2 linked regions of the Homo sapiens genome follow. The protein of the gene in region 2 purifies or fractionates together with the protein of the main gene of each other region. This does not show direct contact. Each region holds a gene or a part of one and is shown on either strand. Other genes may lie near its edges.

Region 1 (2,776 bases), on a different chromosome or scaffold from region 2:
TGTATTTTTAGTGGAGAGCTGTGATCACCACACTGCACTCCAGCCTGGGTGACAGGTGGGATTCTGTCTCAAAAAAGTAAATAAATAGGGTTGAGCACAGTGGCTCATGCCCGTAATCCCAACATTTTGGGAGGCTAAGACAAGCAGATCACTTAAGACCAGGAATTTGAGACCAGCTTGGCCAACATGGTGAAATCCCTTTACTAAATACACAAAAATTAGCTGGGTGTAGTGGTGCATGTCTGTGGTCCCAGCTACTCAGGAGGCTGAGGTGAGAGAATCACTTGAGCCTGGGAAGCAGAGGTTGCAGTGAACCGAGATCACACCACTGCACTCCAGCCTTCTCAACAACAAAGTAAGTAAGTAAAGCTCATCACAGATACATAGTGTAATGACTTAGAAAGAGTTCAAAAGACATCACTGGGCCAGGCACAGTGGCTCACGCCTCTAACCCCAGCACTTTGGGTGGCCAAGGTGGGTGGCTCACCTGAGGTCAGGAGTTCAAGACCAGCCTGGCCAACATGGCATAACCCTGTTTCTACTAAAAATATAAAAATTAACTGGGTGTGGTGGTGGGTGCCTGTAATTCCAGCTACTTGGGAGGCTGATGGAGATTGCAGTGAGCTGAGATCACACCACTTTACTCCAGCCTGGGCGACAAAGCTAGACTCTGCCTCAAAAAAAAAAAAAAAAAAAAAAAAAAAAAAAAAAGACATCACTGAATTAATGATCACTCTGGTTCACTAATTGATGCCCACATGCCTAGCCCATGGAATAGGGGTAGTATCCTCAAAGGATGTGGGCCTTCAGGGGCAGCATTACTCTGTGTGTCTGTTGCTTGCTGAAAGGTACAAGGACTCCACATTACCCAGTCATACCTTAAATCCAGTTGGGCACCAATCTACAAACTGGATGGTGCGCTTGGTCTTGATGGTGGCGATGGCCGCGTTGACATCTTTCGGGACCACATCCCCCCTGTACAACATGCAGCAGGCCATGTACTTGCCGTGGCGAGGGTCACACTTGACCATCTGATTGGCTGGCTCGAAGCAGGCATTGGTGATCTCAGCCACGGACAGCTGCTCGTGGTAGGCCTTCTCGGCTGAGATGACCGGGGCGTAGGTGGCCAGGGGGAAGTGGATGCGGGGGTACGGCACTAGGTTGGTCTGGAATTCCGTCAAGTCCACATTCAGGGCCCCGTCAAATCGCAGGGAGGCCGTGATGGAGGACACGATCTGCCCAATCAGGCGATTGAGGTTGGTGTACGTGGGACGCTCGATGTCCAGGTTGCGCCGACATATGTCATAGATGGCTTCATTGTCGACCATGAAGGCACAGTCAGAATGTTCCAGGGTCGTGTGGGTGGTCAGGATGGAGTTGTAGGGCTCCACCACGGCCGTGGAGACCTGGGGGGCTGGGTAAATGGCAAATTCTAGCTTGGACTTCTTGCCGTAATCCACTGAGAGCCGCTCCATGAGCAGAGATGCGAACCCAGAGCCAGTGCCACCCCCAAAACTGTGGAAGATGAGGAAGCCCTGCAGTCCCGTGCACAGATCCGCCTGAGGGAAACCAGACAACATGAATCAATGCCCGTGGAAGCCACACCACCAACCTCCACCAAGCCAGGGCCACTTCTCTGCCTCTGAAGACTTGATATGGATTCCAATCATCCATAATAAACACGCAGTACACTCTGAAGCAAAGAAAAGCAGACAAAGATCTACAGACAAATCACCATGCATACTTCAGACTAAGACCATTGCAGACGCAATAGGACTCAAGATACTGTTCTAAGTTGTTTTTTTTTTTTTTTTTTTAGATAGAATCTCACTCTGTTGCCCAGGCCGGAGGGCAGTGGCATGAACTCCGCTCAGTGCAACCTCTGCCTCCCGGGCTCAAGCCATTCTCCTGCCTCAGCTTCCTGAGTAGCTGGGACTACAGGCAGGCACCACCACGCCTGACTAATGTGTGTATTTTTAGTAAAGACAGGGTTTCACCACGTTGGCCAGGCTGGTCTCAAACTCTTGACTTCAGGTGACTGCCCACCTTGGCCTCCCAAAGTGTTGGGATTACAGGCGTGAGCCACCAGACCCAGCCAACGCACTGGTCTAGGTTTTGACAAAATGACCTCCCCTTCACAATCTAAGATCTACCCTCCTGTGCAGGACAATGGTCACATGAAGCCTTCTCTTCTTACCAGTTTGCGGATCCGGTCCAGGACCAGGTCGACGATCTCCTTGCCGATGGTGTAATGGCCTCTGGCGTAATTATTGGCCGCATCTTCCTTCCCGGTGATCAGCTGCTCTGGGTGGAAGAGCTGCCTATAGGTTCCTGTGCGCACTTCATCTACAAAAGAGACCGTATGTACTGTGAATCTTTAAGGCCTATACTCACCAAGATGGACACATTCCAGGACTGTTCACTTCTACAAAGTACATGCTGTTCAAAGTACATGACCTACATGTTGTAGGTCAACAGTGGCAGTGTCTGGTAGAAAATGTCTCTGTGTGATAACCAAAGTGCAAATGTGTGATAACCAAACTGTGATTTATGACTCTAGGAAGTGAAACTCAGCTTACAATATAAATGTCAGCACGACCAGCTCCCAGTGAAGGGAAATAAGCTCCAGCACCCCCACACAGGTAATTCTACAGGTACATAATTCTTTCCTACATGTAGCTACATCGAAGGCTGTAAGTTAAAAATGCTTACAAACTGAGAAGTCACCAGGTCAGTGTGACTTCTGCAGGGCAGTCCCATCAGGGCACCCTGTGTG
Region 2 (3,997 bases):
TCATTTCTAGCCCAGTTGGGTTTTGATTTATATAAGTAGTTTAGACCTTCTCTTCATAATCTTGCTCTGAGATGGGGAACAGAACACACAAGTATGAAGTTTCTTTCAGGTGTAAATAATGAAAAATAAATGCCTCATAAATGATAGTACAATGTAACTATCAAAGTTTTATAATTCATTATGAGTTAACCATTTTAATGTTTCCAATTAAACCTCATAGTGCAAGTTCTTTGTCTAAAGGGTCTTCTGTTGATTATTCTGCAAGGAAGATAATTAATAAAAGCCTAAGTTAGAAGTTCGTGCTTCTGGCCAGGTGCAGTGGCTCTCACCTATAATCCCAGCACTTGAGGAGGCTAAGGCAGGAGGATGACTTGAGCCCAGGAGTTTGAGACATTTCATGGTATGTAATTAATAGTTGTCATTAGAACATTAGTTCCATGAGAACGGGGACTTTGTTTTGCTCACTGCTGTCTACCCAGTACATAGAAGAGTACACGATGCATTGTTAAGTACTTAAGATTTATTGAATGAGAACTGCATTGTACAATATGGTGCCACTAGACACGTCTATTTAATTAAAATTAAAATATAAAACTCTAAAACTAGCCATGATTCAAAGGTTCAATAGCTATATGTGACTAGTGGCTACCATATAAAACATTTCCATCACAAAGTTCCATTTATCAGATCTTATATAGAACCTTGAATAAAATTTAATAGACAAGTGATTTTGTATTTAACATTTCACCTTTATTGAATGCCTATAAGGCCATTTGAATAACGGATCATGTACAAAGCAACAGGAAAAAAAAAACTGCAAGCAGTAAAGGTTGTGCAGGTGATATTCAGTAACACTGCAGTGTAGCCAGAGCAAGGACATAAAACTTCCTTAGCTTTGTAAGTCTGTGGAAATCAAAACTTCTAAAAGAGAAAACCGAAATCAGAATTACTGACACTTTAGGCCAGGCATGGTGCCTCAAGCCTGTAATCCCAGCATTTAGGGAGGCCAAGGCAGGCAGATCACCTGAGGTCAGGAGTTCAAGACCAGCCTGGCCAACATGGTGAAACTCCATCTCTACTAAAAATAACGAAAATCAGCCAGGCATGGTGGTGTGTGCCTGTAATCCCAGCTACTCGGGAGGCTGAGGGAGGGGAACTTGAACCCAGGAGGCGTAGGCTGCAGTGAGCCAAGATCGCACCACTGTACTCCAGCCTGGGCAACAAGAAGACTCCATCTCAAAAAAAAAAAAAAAAGAATGATTGACATTTTAGAACCAATGCCAAAAGAGTAACACATCAAAGTCTCTGAACTGTGGCCAAAGGTATATTCGGAAGAAAATTCACAGTCTTAAAGATGAGTTTTTAAATTAATTTAGGAAGATGAATTAAGCACTCAAGTAAAAACGATAAAAGTGGGAAGAAAAGATGTTTAAACAAAATAAAAATATACAGTATGGTAATTAATAAGAAAGTATGGGGGAAGTCAGGTGTGGTGGTTCATGCCTATAATCCCAGCACTTTCAGAGGCCGATGCAGGAGGACTGCTTGAATGCAGTTTGAGACCAGCCTGGGCAACACAGACTTCCTCTCCACAAAAAATTTTAAAAATTAGCCAGGTGTGGTGGTGCATGCCTGTGGTCCTAGCTACTTGAGGGGCTGAGGTGGGAGGATCACTTAAGCCCAGGAGGTCAAGGCTGCAGTGAGCTATGATCACCTCACTGCACTCCAGGCTGGGTGACAGAGCAAGACCCTGTCTCAAAAAAAAAAAAAAAAAAAAAAGATATGGGTGAGATTCCTTTAATTCTAATAAAATACCTACTTTATACCAATACATTAGAAAAATTAAGTAAAACTGATGACTCTCCAGAACGATGTGGATTTCCAAAACATGCACGGAAAGGTGAATAGCTCAAGGATACCAAGTTTGCCAAAGATTTGTTCCCAACTGGGCATTGGGACTTGATGGTTTTGCAAGTTGAGTTCTAGCAAACCCTTCAAAGTGAAAATAAGAGTTATCAGAAACCAGGCTGTGAGCACTGTAAAAGGGCAGGAAGTATTGTTTTATTCACCACTATATCCCCAGCTCCTGGCAGAGAACCTGGCACACAGTAAACTCTAAATAAAAATCTGTTAAGTGTGCCGGGCGCGGTGGCTCACGCCTGTAATCCCAGCACTTTGGGAGGCCGAGGCGGGCAGATCACGAGGTCAGGAGATTGAGACCATCCTGGCTAACACGGTGAAACCCTGTCTCTACTAAAAAAATACAAAAAAATTAGCCGGGCATGGTGGCGGGCAACTGTAGTCCCAGCTACTCGAGAGGATGAGGTAGGAGAATGGAGTGAACCTGGGAGGCGGAGCTTGCAGTGATCTGAGATTGGGCCACTGCACTTCAGCCTGGGTGACAGAGCAAGACTGTGTCTTAAAAAAAAAAAAAAATTGTTAAGTGGCTGTAAAGGGAACATTTCATTAGAGTATTTGTGTGTGTGTGTAATTTTCAAAGATAGATATATTTTTAGTTATAGAAACTGAAAACAGGGCTGGGCACAGTGGCTCATTCCTGTAATCCTGGCACTTTGGGAGGCTGAGGTGAGTGGATTGCTTGAGCCCAGGAGTTCTGAGATCAGCCTGGGCAATGTGGTGTAACCCTGTCTCTACAAAAAATACAAAAACTAGCCAGGTGTGGTGGCACACGCCTGTGGTCTCAGCTACTAGGGAGGCTCAGGCAGGAATACCACTTGAGCCCCAGAAGTGGAGGTTGCAGTGAGTTGAGATCATGCCACTGCACTCCAGCCTGACTGACAGAGTGAAACTCTGTCTCAAAAAAAAAACACCTGAAAACATTTCTGGAGCAATATTTATTTTTAGAGTCCCTCGAATACAGAAGTGAAAATGTACTATTCAAGACTTGTATTTAACTTCATAAAATTTCTTTCCTAGATGGGTATTACCTCTTATTAAACAACTAATAAAATATGTGCTATATAATCATACATTTAAAACATGGAAAGACAACTAATATCTTACAGTACATGAAGACAAACTTCAGGAGACAAACATTAAATATATCCAAAAACTAAATGGACCTGGACTTTGCTTACAAATTGCTTAAATGGAAATGAAATTTGTGTTTAAGAAATGTTTTCACTGATGGAAAAATAAATCTAACAAAACCATTATGTAAAAACATACTGATTTACAAAGCCAATGTGTCTCAGTTTTAATTTGTATATACCCTAGATGAGGTTTATATTAAATGAGAATAAAATATTAAAAGTCCATCAATGTGTAGAAAAGAAATACAGCTGCTCAAGTACTAGATAGAACTTCATATTCTTTAAATCTATTTCTAGAACTGAATTGACTTTTTAAAATTTTATAATTTATCAACTACTCCTTAAGGTTATTAACAATAGCAGGAATTATGACGACATATTATGTCATTTGTTTCTCCTACTGCTTTTATCTCTACATTACAATATAAAATTTTCAATCCAGCATTTTATAGCTCTGTGTTTAAGTTAATTAGTACCTTAAAAAAATAAAATTCTAAATATAAACTTGGTGGATTAAGGCTCAGTAAACAGTAATCAAACAAACAACAGATTTGTCCTCACAAAGAGAATATGAAAGCCAAAGTTTTTTTTCTTTTGTGATCCTGCTTCATATTATTCTGTTCTGTCCAATTTCTTTTCTGTAGGGAAACGCCAAAGAGATATAAAAAAGAGATATAAAACAGTGGTGAGTGGCTTCCAAATGACTGTTTGCCCTTGCTTTTTAAGCCAAAATCCTCTAAAAATAGGTCTTTAATTCTGGCAGCAGATTAGGACAAATGCTCAAAAATTCATGTTTTCTTCAAAAAATTTCAACTGGCGAGCTTTCACACTGTAAGTTGTATACTTTTCACCCATGTGCTCCCGCAAACGTACCTATTTGAGAAACAAAAAGAAAATCAATCAGTATGTAGTAGGAAAAAATATTTCTGTAATCTTAGAGGAAG

Evidence for each region. The genes of interacting proteins can lie anywhere in the genome.
Region 1: the proteins of NEK4 (region 2) and TUBA3C purify together in Homo sapiens (affinity purification with mass spectrometry, with the first as the bait; 2 studies listed by BioGRID). This does not show direct contact.

What each region holds. Positions count from the first base shown.
Region 1 is NC_000013.11:19,176,049-19,178,824, forward strand, and holds part of TUBA3C (tubulin alpha-3C chain), read right to left. Parts: intron 2,347-2,776; coding exon 2,198-2,346; intron 1,560-2,197; coding exon 879-1,559; intron 1-878. UniProt on the Homo sapiens protein: Tubulin is the major constituent of microtubules, a cylinder consisting of laterally associated linear protofilaments composed of alpha- and beta-tubulin heterodimers.
Region 2 is NC_000003.12:52,707,944-52,711,940, forward strand, and holds the end of NEK4 (serine/threonine-protein kinase Nek4), read right to left. Parts: intron 3,927-3,997; coding exon 3,834-3,926; 3' UTR 501-3,833; downstream 1-500. UniProt on the Homo sapiens protein: Protein kinase that seems to act exclusively upon threonine residues. Required for normal entry into proliferative arrest after a limited number of cell divisions, also called replicative senescence.